2 separate regions of the Homo sapiens genome follow, and region 2 is linked to region 1. A link means that fine-mapping ties the variant in region 1 to the expression of a gene that starts in the linked region. Tissue or cell type: whole blood. Region 1 holds a variant in brackets; the other region holds the start of a gene. All regions are shown on one strand. Distances are from middle to middle.

Region 1 (8,103 bases):
TGCCCTTTACCCAAGCATCCCCAGATGTTAACATCTTACATAATCACAATACCATGATTAAGAGCAGGAAAATCCATTAGACAGTGCTGCCGGCCAATCTGCAGATCGTACTCAACTTTCTTCAGGTGTCCCCTGATGGCCTTTTTCTGATCCAGGATCTCATTGGATTTAGTTGTCATGTCTCTTTAGTCTCCTTCAATCTGTGACAGTTTCCCCATCTTTTCTTGTGCTTTATGACCTGAGTGCTCTTGACAAATGCCAGCCAGTTTTTGTTTTGTTTTGTTTTGTTTTTTTGTAGACTGCCCCTCACTTTGGATTTGTTTGATGTTCTCTCATTGTTAGATTGAAGCTGTACCTTTTAGGCAGGATCCCCCAGAAGTGGTGCTGTGCCCTCCTCAGTGCGGCATATCAGGAGGCACAGGGTGCCGATGTGTCTCCATGCTTCCGGTGCCCACTGTCTTCACCTGGTTAAGATGATGCCTGGGCCAGGCACAGTGGCTCATGCCTGTAATCCCAATACTTTGGGAGGCCGAGGCGGGCAGATCGCTTGAGCCCTGTAGTTGAAGACCAGCCTGGGCAACATGGCAAAACCCCATCCCTACAAAAAAATTAAAAAATTAGCCAGGCATGATGGTGCATCCCTGTAGTCCCAGCTACTCGGGAGGCTGAGGTGGGAGGATCGCCTGAGCCTTGGGAGGTTGAGGCTGCAGTGAGTCATCACATCACTGCACTCCAGCCTGGGTCACAGTGAGACCCTGTCCCTCCAGCCCCCATCAAAAAGACGATGTCTGCCAAATTTCTCCACTGCACAGTTACTCTTTCCATTTTGTAATTAATAAGCGTTTTCTGGGGGAAGTGCTTTGAAGGTATGTCAATATCCTGTCTTTATCAAAGTTTTGATTTGTTCATTTCTTTATTTCTATGTATGTTTTATCCTTTCTGTTTTATCCAATGGCTTATAATCTGTGATGATTGTTATTTATTTTGATGCTCACATTGTCTATTCTTCGGCCAGTGGGAACCCCAAGTTTTTTTTTTTTTTTTTTTTTTTTTTAAAGACAGGGCCTCACCCTGTAGCCCAGGCTGGAGTGCAAGGCTCACCATAGCATTAAACTCCTGGATTCAAATGATCCTCCCACCTCAGCCTCTTGAGTAGCTAGGACTATAGGCACACACCACCACGCCCAACTTTTGTTGTTGTTTTTTGTTGTTGTTGTTTGTAGAGATGAGGTCTTGTTATGTTGCCCAGGCTTTTCTTGAACTCCTGGCCTCAAGCGATCCCCCCACCTGGGCCTCCCAAACTGCTGGAATTACAAGCATGAGCCACTGACTGTGTCTGGCCTCTTCTTGTCCTTTTGACATGTCCTTTTCATTCTTTGAACACTTTCTTGGTTTCTGACATAAGAAGGTGCTCCAGGCCCATCTTGTATTTTTCCTGCCCAGCCTAGAATCAGCCATTCCAAGGAGCTCTGACTGCTTTAAGTAGAGAATAGTGATTAGAAGCCAAGGTTTGGGTGCTCGTTACACTCACTGCTATTGGGCTGTTGCTGTTGCTGGATCTTCTCTATGGAAAGAGCTAGGAAATGTATGTATATATGATACGTATATATACATGTGCATATTTCAGTGTTTGGGTATATTGAAAATGATTAATTCATACTGATATTTCCATTACCACTATAATACCATGTTTTCACCTCCCTTCCCTGACAGTGAGGCACCTGGCCCCACTATCCTTGTACATGTACATGTTTGACCAGTCTCTCTGTATGTAACAATCTCCTATCTCTCTCTTCCTCACCCTGACTGAACTTAGACACTCTGCCCCGAGCCACTGCTGCCTCCTCACCCAGAGCAGCCTCTGACTTCCAGTTTTGAAACAATGGTTCTTATATTTTTTATTTTTTAATTTTTATTTTATGTATATTTTTGAGATAGGGTCTCACTGTGTGACCCAGGCTGGAGTACATTGGCACCATCTTAGCTCACTGCAGCCTCAACCTCCCAGGCTCAAGTGATCCTCCCACCTCAGCCTCCTGACTAGCTGGGACTACAGGCGCACACCACCATGCCCAGCTAATTTTGTTCATTTTTTTTTGTGGAGATGAGGTCTCTCTATGCTGCCCAGGCTGGTCGCAAACTCCTATTCTCAAGCAGTCCTCCCACCTCAGCCTCCCAAAGTGCTGGGATTACAGGCAAGAGCCATCGTGTACAGCAGTTTCTGTATTTTTTTAAACTGCGAGGCCCAGTTTCTGCTTGTCGGTCCCTGATGGTGACCTGGACAAAAGCTGGGCTGTTAGCCACCTGGGGTATCGAGCCCCAGGACACGGCTGTCATGCTTTAATCTGCATGGGAACTTTTAGATCCCCTGTGCACCCCCTCATTTCATACTCAGAGAAGCTGAGGCCCAGCAAGGGCCAGGGATTTTCTGAAGGTCTAACACGAAGTTGGGGTGGAGTGAGGACGAGACCCCTCCCGCTGCAGCCCTTTCCTGCTGCTCATTTCTCCAGTCTTAGGAGAACCCACATGCCCTCCCCACTGGCCCAGGCTGGCCTTCCTATGACACGAGGCGGACCACATCCTCTTCCAGCTCCGCAAGGCCTCTCCGCTCAAATGGTCACCGCCTAGGCCCCAGGCCTCATGTCATCTGCAGACGCGTCTCATTTGTCCTGTAGAGTGTTGGCCCAGCATTTGAGAATGGTGAACTTCCATGTAAAATTCCACATTTTTGGCTTCTCTTGGACACTCAGAAGGTCTGGCCTCCTGAGCCCGCATCTCTACCTGGCAGGTGTCAGCTGGGGCTCGGTGATGGCCGCCTGCTGGTTTGTTTTCTCTCCATTCCCTCTCCCCACCCCTACCTCCCAAATTTGCTGACCTCTCACAGTCTCCCACAGTAGACCGCCCGCCGGCCCCCATCGACACTTGGTGTGAGACTCCCTAGCCACAGCCTGGCCCTCAGGACCCTCTCCTCCAGCCCCGCCCCAGTTTTCCGTCCTCCTCTCCCTGCACATCGGGCTGTACCCTGTGCCGGAGAGAGGACAGCGCCCAGCTTCCCAGATTCGGTCCTACTCTGTCTTTGCTTCTGCTCCTCTCCTTGCCTGGGCTGCTCTTTCCCTCCACCCATCCATCTTCTCCCCCTCCTGCTCTGTGCACACATCACCCCCTGTAGGAAGCTTCACCGAGGACCCCAGGCCAAGTCAGGTACCCCCTCCTGAGTTAATCCAGCACCTCGTGATGAGGATGCCACTACCTTCTCCTTCCCTTTCTTTGCCTCTACCGCTAAACTACAAACTCACTGGGCCAAGGGTTGATTTTTATCTCCTTGCCTAAGGGCCTAAAAGAGGGGGTGTGTTAGTAGGCACTGCGTAAATGTTTGTCAAACAAGCGTTAATAATAATAGTAACCACAAATATCCACGTGGCATTTCTGGGGTGCCAGGCTCTGCCTAAGTACTTTATATGTGCTCAGTCATTTGAGCCTCACCACCATGCTGTGAGATAGTTACTGTTGTTGCCCCCACTTTATAGACAAAGAAACTGAGGCACAGAGAGGTTAAGTGACGGTCCCAGGGTGGTACAGTAGTGGTCATAGTTGAGCCCAGGCATCTGATTCCACAGCACATGCTCTTACCTCTCACACACCTCTCAGTGTTAAAGCGGCCCCCACTTTCTGACTAAGGGATATGAGTAAATATGGACAGGTGAGTTGCAGAGACCCCCAACCTCCCGACCACACCCCAGCCCCAGCTTCTAGTACCCTCAGGGGCACAAGCACAGGTGACTGGGAGCTAAGCAGGCGGCAGAGAAAGTGGTACCTTTGAACTTGGCAGCCCGCAGGAATTTTTCTCCCCTGAGGTCTTAGGAAACTGAGCATGTTTCACGTGTAATTAGGGTGAGCACACTGATTCAAGCATCGGCCCTTACGCAAGGTTTCCAAGGCATTGCGTCGGGTTTAGCTGGGCATACTCTTGTTTCCCAATCACCAAAGAGGAACCGCACACCAGCCTGTCACCCCCAAGGGCTGGAGCCGCCGGCCTCTCCAGCAAGTCAAGTTCTGTCTGAGAGCTGGGATGCCGTGTGGACTAAGGAGGGTTCTGTCGATCAAACTCTGCTGTGGGAGAACTGTCTGCTACGCAGGTTCAAGTGAAGGAAACGAAGCCAAGTGTGTGGGGAGCCTCCCCTGCGAGCTCTCTGCGTCACATCCTTTACAGACACTTCTTTCCCTCACTCCTTTCCGTGGCCTCACAGGGTCTAGTACTAATGGTCCCATTTTTACAAAGGAGGAAACAGGCTCCGAGAGGTGAAGTCGTTTGCTGAAGGTCACATGGTGAACGAGAGGACCAGCCGAGATTTGAACCAGGGTAGTCTGATTCCAGGGTCTTAACTCTTAAATAGCTGAAGCAGAGCCAGAATTAAACCTGTGTCTGTCTGATTTCCAAAACCCTGAATTCTCCCACTACACCACACGATTTCCCTGTGCTCTGGTGGGATCCATAGGAAAGAAAGACATCTGTCTGCTTCTGTGAGGGAAAGAAATCACACAAGACAGGAACCAGAGCCATCACCAGCTGATGCTAAGACCGTGGGCTCCTGGCAGGACTTTCTGTTAACCTCATGCCTTAGCATTCTTAAGAAGAGTCTCCATGAGGCAGACAGCAGGAGCTGGGGGGTGCAGCCGGAGTGGAAACAGGAGGAGGCAGGAAAGGGAAGAGGGGGAGGAGAGGTGACGTGGAGCAAGAATGCAGCATCGTCACATAACTCGAGCAGGGCTGTGCGTTTCCTTGCTTCCTCTAGCGTCAGAGTCACCCCCGATTCAGGGGTTCCATACATTCCATAATTATCCAGTGCCTACT[C/A]TGCACCAGGCCCATGCTAGGGTTTGGGAACGTGGCAGGGAACAAAACCTAACTAGGCCCCTGCTCTCGCAGAAGTTACACTCTGATGGAAGACCCACCGATGAGTGGGAGGGTCATCTGGTGGTTCACGCCTGTAATCCCAGCACTTTGGGAGGCCAAGGTGGGCAGATCGGTTGAGCTTAGGAGTTCGAGACCAGCCTGGGCAACATGGCAAAACCCCGTCTCTACCAAAAATACAAAAATTAGCCAGGCATGGTGGCACATGCCCGTAGTCCCAGCTACTTGGGAGGCTGAGACACGAGACTCACTTGAACCTGGGAGGCAGAGGTTGCAGTGAGCCAAGATTGCACAACTGCACTCCAGCCTGGGTGACAGAGCGAGACCCTGTTTAAAAAAAAAAAAGAAATGTTATGAAGAAGAGATGACAAGGGGATGTGATCTAAGGGTGTTGTGGGGAGCAGGGGTTCCATCAGAGAAGCATCTTGGAGAAAGTGTCCTGAAAGAGCAGAAAAACTGTGGGAAGAACCATGGTTTGTTGAACCATGTGTCACACAAGCCAGCACCACTGCCTGCTGCCTTGAGACCCACCCTTTGTGCCCACCTCACTCCTGTTCCATTTGCTCTCCACAGGTTTGACATCTACAGGAAGGTGCCCAAGGACCTTACGCAGCCAACGTACACCGGGGCCATTAGTGAGTAGCCAACCTCTGGCCATGCCCTCTGCCCCATCTCCACTGCCTGTGCCTGCTCTCTCTGTGCAGATCATCTGGGCCAGGGAGGAAAGAAGGAAAGACAGGAGGGAGGAAAGAAATGCTGAGCATCTTGCGGGGGCCCTTCAAGCATTTCCTCACTTACTCTCTATCCTCACTGTAACCCCTCAAGGCACAGGCACCATCTGGAAGGACATGAAAGAAATTGTCAAGAGTAGCTGCCAGGCTGGGCGCGGTGGCTCACGCCTGTAATCCCAACACTTTGGGAGGCCAAGGCGGGTGGATCAATTGACATCAGGAGTTCGAGACCAGGCTGACCAACATGCTGAAACCCCGTCTCTATTAAAAATACAAAATTAGCCAGGCATGGTGGTACATGCCTGTAGTCCCATCTACTCGGGAGGCTGAGGCAGGAGAATCGCTTGAAACAGGGAGGTGGAGGTTGCAGTGAGCCGAGATCACACCATTGCACTTCAGCCTGGGCAACAAGAGCGAGACTCCATCTAAAAAAAAACAGTAGCTGCCCCTGGGAGAGGAATTGGGCCCAGGGGTAGGAAGGAGATTTACTTTTCTCTTTATACCTTAAAAATGATTTGAGTTTTCCACCAAAGCATGTTTTTATCCATTAAAAAAAAAAATCACAATCTCATCCAGACTTTGGGTTCTAAAGACCATTCTTCAATAAAAGGAACCATGGCTCCTTGGAGAAATGGCTGATTTCAGGGCTAGGCAGGGTAAAGATAGAGGAGCCTGGAGTGCCTGGTGTCAGCAGGACCTAGGAGCCAACTTGAAAGTCAGCCTGCAGCAGTTTGAGTAATAAAATAAATAATGACATTATTGGCTTAGAAGCCAGAGAATTAAGAAAGAGTTCTGTGGGTCCTAATTGATATCAATAAATGGGGGAGAAGAGACAAATCCATTCAGAAGAATTCCAAATAATATACAGGCTGAGTATCTCTTATCCAAAATGCTTAGGACAAGTGTCTCAGATTTTGGATATCAGATTTTAGAATATTTGCATTATACTTATCAGTTGAGCATCCCACATCCAAAAACCTGAAATCCAAAATGCTTCAGTGAGCATTTCCTTTGAGCAACATGTTGGCACTGAAAACGTTTCAAATTTTGGAGCACTTAGGATTTTGGGTTTTCAGATTTGGGATACTCAACGTGTATGTAGCTATTCTCCCATCCAGGTGGTGGAGTTTAATTCCCCTCTCTTGAGTGTGGACTTAGTAACTCTATTTCAAAGAATAGAGAATGGGAAGGAAAAATAAGGCCTTTACTGAGGAAATATGGCAAGTGCCAGTGAGGAACCAAGTGAGAAAGGTTGGCATGACCAGTGATAAGCCACGTGCATATCGTGAGCCCCTGATAGGATGCATGGAGGCATCTTGCCTCCATGGGATCGTACCAAAAAACCACAGTTCAGTCTAATCATAGGAAAACTCACAATCCCAGGTCAGGGGACATTCTATAGGATACTTGGCCAGTACTCTTCAAACATGGCAAGGCCTTGAAAAACACAAAAGACCGAGGAACTGTCACTGATAAGAGACTAAGGACCCAGGATGAAAATGCAAAGTGGACTCCCAGATCAGTTCCTGGAACAGAAATCTGGAGTTTGTGGGAAAACTGGTGAAGCCCAAATAAAGTCCGTAGCCAAGTTCATGGTACTGTACTAATGTTCAATTCTTCATTTTGACAAATGTAAGATGCTAACATAACGGGAAGCCCAGTGAAGGGCGTATGGGAACTGTCTGTACTACCTTTGCATCTATGATTATTCTACAGTAAAAAGTTTTAAAAACAAACCAAAGCCACCTTGCAAACAGGGGATGCTTTCGCCTCATTTTCCCAATGAGAAAATGAGCTGAGAGAGGTGAGCTGAAATTTCACAGCTCACAGAAGATGGAGCCACGACTCATACTCAGGTGGGCCTCCTTGCACCCCACAAGCCCCCCTAGTGCCTGGTGTGGGAGAGGGAACTGCCCCCCTGATGGTCCCAGCCCTGCTGCCTGAGCAGGGTCCTGGGCCGGGCAGTCGGTCATATTGGAGTCCACTTCTCCCAGGTCAGGCCATTCTCAGTTGGGGGAGGACCTTGGGGATCCGGCTGGGCTTGTTGAAGCTGCAAGATGCCTTTGAGAGCCCTGAGGAAGGGACAGCACAGCCCCGTGGCAGGATGCATGTCACACAGGCTCTGTGTTCGGGCAGAGCAAGGTTCATCCTCCCATTTAGCAGCAGTGTGACTGAGCAAGTCACTCCCCTCTCTGAGCCTCAGTTTCCTGATCTGGGGATTAAATGTGTCCCGGGATGTGTCTTGTGCAGGGCACGTACTAACCCCTCAGTGCATGGATGACTCTCCTTTTCTTCTCACTGTCCTCCCGGAGCCTGCAACACATGAGGGCCTGTGGCCTGAGAAGCTGTGCAGCTTTGTGCCTTGACTCCCGAGGAAAGGATATGGAGGGGACCATGAGAGGAAAGAGCCTTGGTAGTTTATGAACCTGATCCAAAAAAATCAAATGAGGCTTCCTGCCCCAT
Region 2 (8,084 bases), 53 kb before region 1:
ATCTCTGCTCACTGCAACCTCTGCTTCTCAGGTTCAAGCAATTCTCCTGCCTCAGCCTCCTGAGTAGCTGGGATTACAGGCATGCGCCACCATGCCTAGCTAATTGTTTTTGTTTTTAGTAGAGACGGGGTTTCAGCATGTTGGTCAGGCTGGTCTCAAACTCCTGACCTCGTGATCCACCTGCCTCTGCCTCCCAAAGTGCTGGGATTACAGGCGTAAGCCACCACGCCCGGCCCCTAAGACAGTTTTTCTTCTTCCAGCGTGGCCCAGGGAAGCTAAAAGATTGGACACCCCTGCCTTAGAAGAATCACTTGCAAACTCACCCACAGGGGCTTTTCCTTAGGGCACAGAAGCCACACACAGAAGCCAGCTTATCCAGGGTGACTGATCCAAGAGATAGCAAGAGAGTGTCCAAGACAGAAGTCACCATCTCTTGATAACCTAATCTCAGAAGCAACATGCTCATCACTTCTGCCATATTTTGTGCATTAGAAATGAGTCCATAAGTCCAGCCTACACTTGAAGGGAGGAAATTACACAAGGGTATGAATACCAAGAGGTGGGTTAATTGGGACAATTTCAGAGGCTACCTGCCACAGGTAAGGTATTATTATCCTTCATTTCATACCTAGACACCCAGCTAGTTAAGCAACTGGTCCAGGTCACCCAGCAGAGAGTGATCTGAGTCCAAAGTGGTTTTCTATTTCCCCAGGCTGGCGGGGGGTGAGATGGAGGAAGGCAGGGAGAAGTTACTGGTAGGAAAAAAAAATAATGAGGATGGAGTCTCTGTTATTTATCTACTGCTGTGTAACTAATTACCCACAACTTAATGGCTTAAAGCAAACATTTATTATCTTATAGTTTCTATGGATCAGGAATTCGGGAGCAGCTGAGCTGGGTGTTTCTCAGGGTCTCTCAAGAACCTGTGGTTAAGCTGTGGGCTGGGGATGCAGCTTTGAAGCCCTGACCGGGGCTGAGCCGCTACTTCCAAGAGAGCCCACTCACATGGCTGTTGGTGGGAGGCCTCATTCCTCACCGACCAGGCCCCTTTATAATCGTGCTTGAGCCTCTTTAGGACAGGCAGTTGGCTTCCCTCAGAACGAGTGATTCAAGAGTGGCTAAGCAGAGCCTCAGTCTTTTGTGACGTAGCCACAGGAGTCATAACTGTCGTTTCTGCAATATCCTGTTGATTACACAGGATAGGTCAGCCCTATTCATTGTGGGAGGTGATTCTAGAAGGGCATGGGAATACCAGGAGATCAGGGTCACTGGAGGCTGGCTACCTACCACAGGCTTCCACAAGATTGATAATCCGAAAACTTAACTTGTATTGTTGTTCCCTGCTCAAAGAGACCCAGAGCCTTCCCACGTACTGCAGACACAATCTGATTTTCTTAGCTCCATCTCCCACTGGCTCTTGAGTGGATGGACCATCTGGGACTGACAGCCTGGTCTGCTCACAGACCTCACCAGTCCCACAGCGGAGGCCCATGTTGATACCTCCCCTCCCATCCGCTGTTCTGTTGGTAAGGCCTGCCTCCGTGGGAAGGCCTGCCTCCCTGGGAAGCCTCTATTCAAACTTCAACGCATAGTTAGTGCATCCCCAGCATGTGCAGGGTCTGGCTGGATGCTAGGATATGATGGTGATACCACCTTGTCTCAGGGAACTTTCCTTTTTTTTTTTAAATTATACTTTAGGTTCTGGGATACATGTGCAGAACGTGCAGTTTTGTCACACAGGCATACACGTGCCATTTGTGTATGGCATCATTGTTTGTGTACCCATCAACCCGTCATCTACATTAGGTATTTCTCCTAATGCTATCCCTCCCCTAGCCCCCTACCCCCCGACAGGCCCCTCTCAGGGAACTTTCACTCAGATGGGGTAGTAGTTACTAGCGAATTAATAATAACCTAATCACACGTCATGCCCAGTTCTCCCAAGGAAACCTACAAGGTACCATGCGATTATGTAATAGGGGACTGGCCTAGTCCATGAGCATTGGGGCAGTCAAGTAGCTAGCCAGGCTGCATAGGTGTATCAGCATTGGGTTTAGGTGTAAGTGTCTGAAAATACAGAATAACAATAGCTTAAATAAGATAGATGTTTGTTTCTCTTGGGCAGGTGTTTGAGGACAGGTATTTTGCCACTTAGAGACAGGAACTCAGGTTTTTTTTTTTTTTTTTTGAGACAGAGTCTCACTCTGTCGCACAGGCTGGAGGGCAGTGGTGTGATCTGGGCTCACTGCAACCTCTGCCTCCCAGGTTCAGGCGATTCTCCTGCCTCAGCCTCCTGAGTAGCTGGGATTACAGGCGTGTGGCACCACGCCCGGCTAATTTTTGTATTTTTAGTAGAGACAGGGTTTCACCACATGTTGGTCAGGCTGGTCTCGAACTCCTGACCTCAGGTGATCCGCCCACCTCGGCCTCCCAAAGTGCTGCAATTACAGGTGTGAGCCACTGTGCCCGGCAGGAACTTAGGCTCTTTTTGTCTTGTTGCTCTGCTCTGTGGTGGCCTCCACCTTATGGTCCAGGATGGTGACGCCTACATTCCTGGCAGCCAGATGGAGAAAGGGACACAGAGGGTAAAGCAGACATACCAACTATCCCAGATGCCCCACAAGACACTTCCCTTTACTTCTCAATGCCACATCTAGCTACAAAGGAAGCTGGGGAAATGCAACTTTCACTGTGAGCACCCACATGCCCAGCCAAAAGTTGGGAGCTCTATCCCCACTCGAAAAGAGCAATGATAGTCAACCCTGTCTTGCATTTACTCTGTGCCAGGCATTTGCTGACCTTGGATATCATCCCAAATGCACACTTGATTCAGTAGGTCTGGCCTGGGGACAAGAGTCTGTCCTGTGATGGCCATGTGGCTGGTCTGTGGACCACAGTTTGAGGAGGGAGGATTCGAGGTCAAAGATCCATCATTGCATGTTTCCTCCCACACAGGGCCAACGAATGGCTGTTTGGAAGCAGTGGCTGCTCAAGATCCCTTAACTCTCCCTGCTGTCCCTAGGTTTCCAGTTCAGGCTGAGATTTCCTTTTCTCCCCCAACAGTGTCAGACCACTGACACTGAATGAATGAATGAATGAATGAGTGAATGAATGAAAAGGGAACGCAGAGGTCAGGTCCCGGCATATGCTCTAGGGGAAGGCTTTGGTTCACCACGTCACCCTACCCCAGACCCCGTGCTAGTGTTGTCCCTTCTGAATCCTCCCGGAGGAACCAGCACTGCTGTTCCCCTCTATTTACACAGGGGGAAACTGTCCATTGACTCTGCTTTTGGAACCCGAGCCCTCACCATTCTCCCCTGGGTTTTTTGAAGCCCTGTCCCACCACAACCTTGGAGAAAGGGCCAGTGACAGAACCTCGGGGAAGTTCAGAGTGAGTTTCCCCTACTCAGGTCTTGTGTGACCTCAACTACCATCTCCTCTAATCCAGCAGTCACGGAGGCAGCTGCTCTGTATTCCTGAGGAGGAAACTGAGGCTCTAAGAAGGAGACAATCGGCACAGTCCACGTTGGCCAAGTCACAGTGCAGGTCCCATCTGCCTCTGCCACAACCCTGCATGTTCTCGATGGACCTGGTTCAGAGCAGATGCTCTGTGAATGCCCACTGGAGTGAACGACAGGGGCAGATGGAAGCAGGGACAGCCACTGCCAGCCTCAATAGTTTCAGGTGCCTGGCACTGTGCTAAGCCAGTCTCCTGTTTCTCAGCTGATCCCCAGGAAAACCCCCTCAAGTAGGTGTCATCGTCCTCTTTGTGCAGATATGCAAAAGGGGCGGGGCGGGGGGGGGGCGCTCTGAGAAGCCCAGTGGCTTTCCCAGAGAGACACGGCAGGGGCAGAGGTGAGTCCACCTTAACAGCCTAGGATGGCCGACCTCTTCCCTTCCCCCACAGTATTAGGCCCTCACTCAGAGCTAGACGCTGTGCACGGCCAAAGTCTGTATCACCCCGCCCCCCGCCCCCAACTCAATCACAGTTCAGTGAAACTGTTTACAAATGCAAAAAACTGGGCTCGGAGAAGCAGAGAATTTGTCCGAGGGCATCCAAAGAGATGGAGAAGGAAATCTAAGTGGGAGGCTTGAAGGAATGAGTACTGGAGTCTTTGGGGGACTCCCTTCCCTTCCGACAGCCTCGACTCTCCGCCCCTTCCCTGCCTGCCCGCGGGCCCCTTTAACCGGGTGGCGGAAGGGGCGGCCGGGCGGGCGGCGCCCAATGGGCTGCGCGGAGCGTCACTTCCCGGCAGCGGGAGGCGAGTGGCGAGTGGCGAGTGGCGAGTGTCAGGGGGGCGGCCGGCGGGGGCGGGGCGGCCGGAGGAGGCGTTGGCAGCGGGCTCGGACCCACGCGGCGCCGCGGCCCGCCTGGCCTGCAGCGCTCCCACCCCCGGCGGCGGCACGATGCCCTTTGACTTCAGGAGGTGAGTGTGGCGACCCCGGCCAGTCGGGAGTTCCCTCAGCGGGCAGAGGGAGCGCCCCGGCACGCCGCGGACCCCTCCCGCCCTGCATGCAAAAGCGGCTCCCCGCCCTGTGCATGCCTCCGCAGGCCCCTAGGGACCCCAGGCGAGCCCCCCCCCTGCCGCACACGAAGCCAGCCAGAGCCGCGGAGGCCCCCTCGTGCAGCGGGAGACAAATCCACCCACCTTCCCTCCGCCGAGCCCCCTCCCCAGCCTGCCCGGATACCTTGCATTCCCCTCCCCCACACTAGGAAACATTTCCTCCCTCCTCCCAGATGGGAACAGCCCATAACACCCCAGCATCCCTCTCCTCCCTCTACTGAGCCTCCTTGGTGGACCCCACCTCAGCTGACAGGTGGGGCAGGGCACCTGGAATGAGTCCGGAGGGGCCTGGGGCCCCATGCAGCCTGCCGGCAGCTGGAGGGTTTTAAGTTTCTATAGCCTGAGGCTCCCCCAGGCCGGGCAGATCGGGAGGCCTGCCCCCGCCCCTCCCTCCCTCAGCCCCAGCCCTGTCCGCTGGGTATGGGGGCACCATGGGAAGGGGAGGAGGCGCCTTGGGCAGGACTCTGCAGAAGGGCCACCGGGGTCTGGCCTTGGCTTTCTGCAGTCACCACAATGGGTCCTTTGTGGGGTCCAGCTGCCTCATGGTCTAGGTTGCATGGGGCATTCTGGAAGCCTGCGGGGGAAGAGATCTCCACCAGAGGTTCCCTTGAGGTGTGGAGCCCCAGGGGATGTCCTGGCCTGAGGCAGCCACACTTGGTGTCTGGCTGGGAAAAGAGCAGGGCTTTAATGCAGGGAGGAGCTGGATTAGAATCCTGGCTCTGCCCTTTCTACTGAACAGCTCGGTATATTCTAGAAGTTAGGGGCAAAGGCTCTGGGTTCAGAACTCCCTGTCGCCGCTCGGCTGGCTGACCTCAGCAAGTCTCCGAGCGCCCTCAGTTTCACCACCTGCAAATTGGGGCTAAAAATAAGGTCTCCGCTTGTGACGACTGAGTGCGTGAAACACCCTTAGCAGAGTCTGGCATGATTTAGAGCTCAGAAATAGGGCATTAGTGGATGGGGGGTGTTCTCCAGGAGGGGTTTTCCACATCCACAAAATAGTGATTCAGATGCCTGTGCCACAGGAGGTATTTCTTCCCCTCTTCTTGCATGTGAAGGCAGTGTAAAGTGACAGTCTACCCAGAGAGAAAGGCCCTTAGCCTGCCATGACCCCCATAGCATGGGATATATTGGGGTTTAGGCCCAAAGAGGACACTGGTCTTGGACCTCTTGATTGGTTGACATGGTTTTCCAGCCTGTCCGGGTCCCTGATACCAGCTAGCAAATGTTTGCCGGCTTCTTGCCCCTGCCGGGCAGCCCTGAGGCTAGCAGACCTAGGCAGTTTTGAACAAGGACAGCCCCTCTGGTGGAATTCAAGGTCAGTCCTAATAGCATCAGTTAAGTCTGGGCCATAAGAGCTGTGGTCGGCACATCAATTTCTGGTTCCACAAAGCCTCCCCTTACCCAGGCCAACCATAGGGATTCGTGCCACCGCCGCCCCCTGCCCCTGTGTGATTCAGTAGGTTCCGGTGATTTTGAGCTTGCTGGGGAAATTGCTGTTTTTGATCTTTTAATCCTTTCTCCCTGCACCTCACCCTTCCGTCTTACCAAGGAGGAAATGAGGCTCCAGGGATGAGGGCCTTATCTTGGACTTTATGGGTGCTAAATGGGAAGGGTAGACTTAGGTCTCAGGTCACACATGGCTCCCAACCTTGTGCTCCTTGAATTGGTGGCTTGTGGGGGCAGGTAAGGGAAGTAAGGAAAATGGGTAAGGCCAGCTCTAGCCTTTGGCCTTGGAAGGGCCCTGTGTCAGGCATTGATATTTAAAGAGAGAAATGCTCAGCTCTGAGAAGCTGGCTAGTCTGGGGCTCCCTTGGCATACTTCAGGTCCCTGAGTGCCCAGGTGTCAGGGGGCCCAGCTTAACTAGGAAATACTCTCAGGGCTTGGGCTCACTGCGGAATGGTGAGAATGGATTCAGTGCTTCACGTTTGCACCTTGGAGGATGAGCCATGTGTGCCCAGCAAACCTGCACTCTTTAAGCTCTGTGAACTTCAAGGCTCCAGGACCTGGGTTCTACTGAGGGTTCGACCATCCCCATGCACCTTCCTCCGCTTCAGTGTGCATTCATCAAGCATTCATCAAGTGTCCAGTCCATGCTCAGCCCTCTGCCACAGGCCCCACCGTGAGGAGGTGGGTGGCATGTGGTCCGGCTCTCTTTGCATTCCAAGAGAAGGGAGGAGGGCTTATGGGGTCCCAGGAGTGGGGGTGTGCGTGAACTGGCACGCAAGGAGCATCTACCACTGTATACACACTTTGGGGTGCAGACATCGATTCCCTTGTCACCTGAGAGAGGGAGTTTTAATCTTCATTTTAAATCAAAGGAGAGGGGAGCTCCACTGAGTAGAAGCCCTTTGCTCTGGCCATGCAGTGCATGAGCTGGTGGATCTGGGATTTGAACTTGGGGCTGTTAGCTCCAAAGCCTTAGATCTGGGAGAAAAGGGAGAGATTGGAGGGGCCCACCATCCTGTCAGCTCTTTTAAGAATTGTGGGGAGTGGAGAGGGGTATACCGTGATTAGACCTCCTCCCCCAGTTCAAGGCCAGGGAGAAAACCAGCCGTCCTGCTCGTGTTCCCCTTCTTAAAATCAGAAGCAGGAAAAATAGTGCACTCTTGCCCTTCCCTACGGATACTTCTGATTTTCTTACTGCCTGTAGAGCCTGGTGCAACTGAGTTCTGTGTTTTCCTGTCTGTGAAATGGGAATGAGGAGAGTACTCACCGAAGTAGAACAGTTGAGGGATGAGGCAGTGCGGAAAGCATTTAGACACAGAGTAAGCGCCTCATCCATTTTGGCCGCCATATTTATTTGTGTCATTTTATTTAAGCACCCATCATCTCCTAACACATTATATAATTCACTTAATTATCATGCTGCTTCTCTCTCCCTCCCATTAGTACATGAGCTCCTGAGGGCAAGAAGTTTTTATCAGGCTTCTTCAAGGTTGCATCTCCAGCACCTAGAACTGTGCTTGAGCCAAACTCGATCCTTGGAGATGCCTCTTGAAATCTGTCAAGGAAGCCATAGACATGACGTGACTTGATATGCCAGCTTCAGTGGGCAGATTTTCAGCCATTAGTGGAGAAATCTCCCCTCTCCACCCTTGAATCTGCCGTTCCTAGGTTGTTTTTGGGGTTAAGGAAGGAGGCAGAACGCAGGGGAGGGAGGCTGAGCTTTCAATGATTTATTGTGTTTGCTTTGCTCTTGTTAAATTGTTTCACTAATGGCTGGCTGTTGCAGTTGTGGAACTAGCCTTGTGACCCACATCCGTGTGTGTTGTTTCGAGTTCCGGCTGGCCTGGGGCCAGTAGCACCTGCTGCCTTCTGCACACCAGCCCAGGGTGGGTGAGGAGGGAAGATAACAGCATCCGGAAGCCCTGTGCCCAGGCCCAGTGGTGCCTGAGCACTGCCTTCCGGGAGGTGCAGGTGGCTGCTGTCCCACAGTGACAGCCCCCATGTTGAAAACCCAAGGCCTCGGGGGTGCCGCTGCACTGGCACTGACCAGATGTGCTCTGGGACCATTGACT

What was found. PIP is the estimated chance that this variant, and not a neighbour inherited with it, causes the effect.
Region 2: it holds the start of ERGIC1, and the variant in region 1 is fine-mapped to the expression of ERGIC1 in whole blood (TOPMed, PIP above 0.99).

What each region holds. Positions count from the first base shown.
Region 1 is chr5:172,883,217-172,891,319 of GRCh38, forward strand. It overlaps ERGIC1 (endoplasmic reticulum-golgi intermediate compartment 1), which reads left to right. Exons shown (of 10, transcript NM_001031711.3): 2 at 5,483-5,544. Among named protein-coding and RNA genes, the nearest start is that of MIR10523, 28 kb to the right of the region's middle. The variant C/A (reference allele first, on the strand shown) is at 4,853.
Region 2 is chr5:172,830,007-172,838,090 of GRCh38, forward strand. ERGIC1 (endoplasmic reticulum-golgi intermediate compartment 1) reads left to right here and starts at 4,245. Exons shown (of 10, transcript NM_001031711.3): 1 at 4,245-4,427. The coding sequence starts at 4,408. LOC124901135 (a long non-coding RNA gene) reads right to left here. Exons shown (of 2, transcript XR_007059054.1): 2 at 7,344-7,567. RefSeq lists silencers at 4,098-4,497, 4,868-4,917, 4,928-5,007 and enhancers at 4,991-5,983, 5,478-5,687, 5,984-6,975.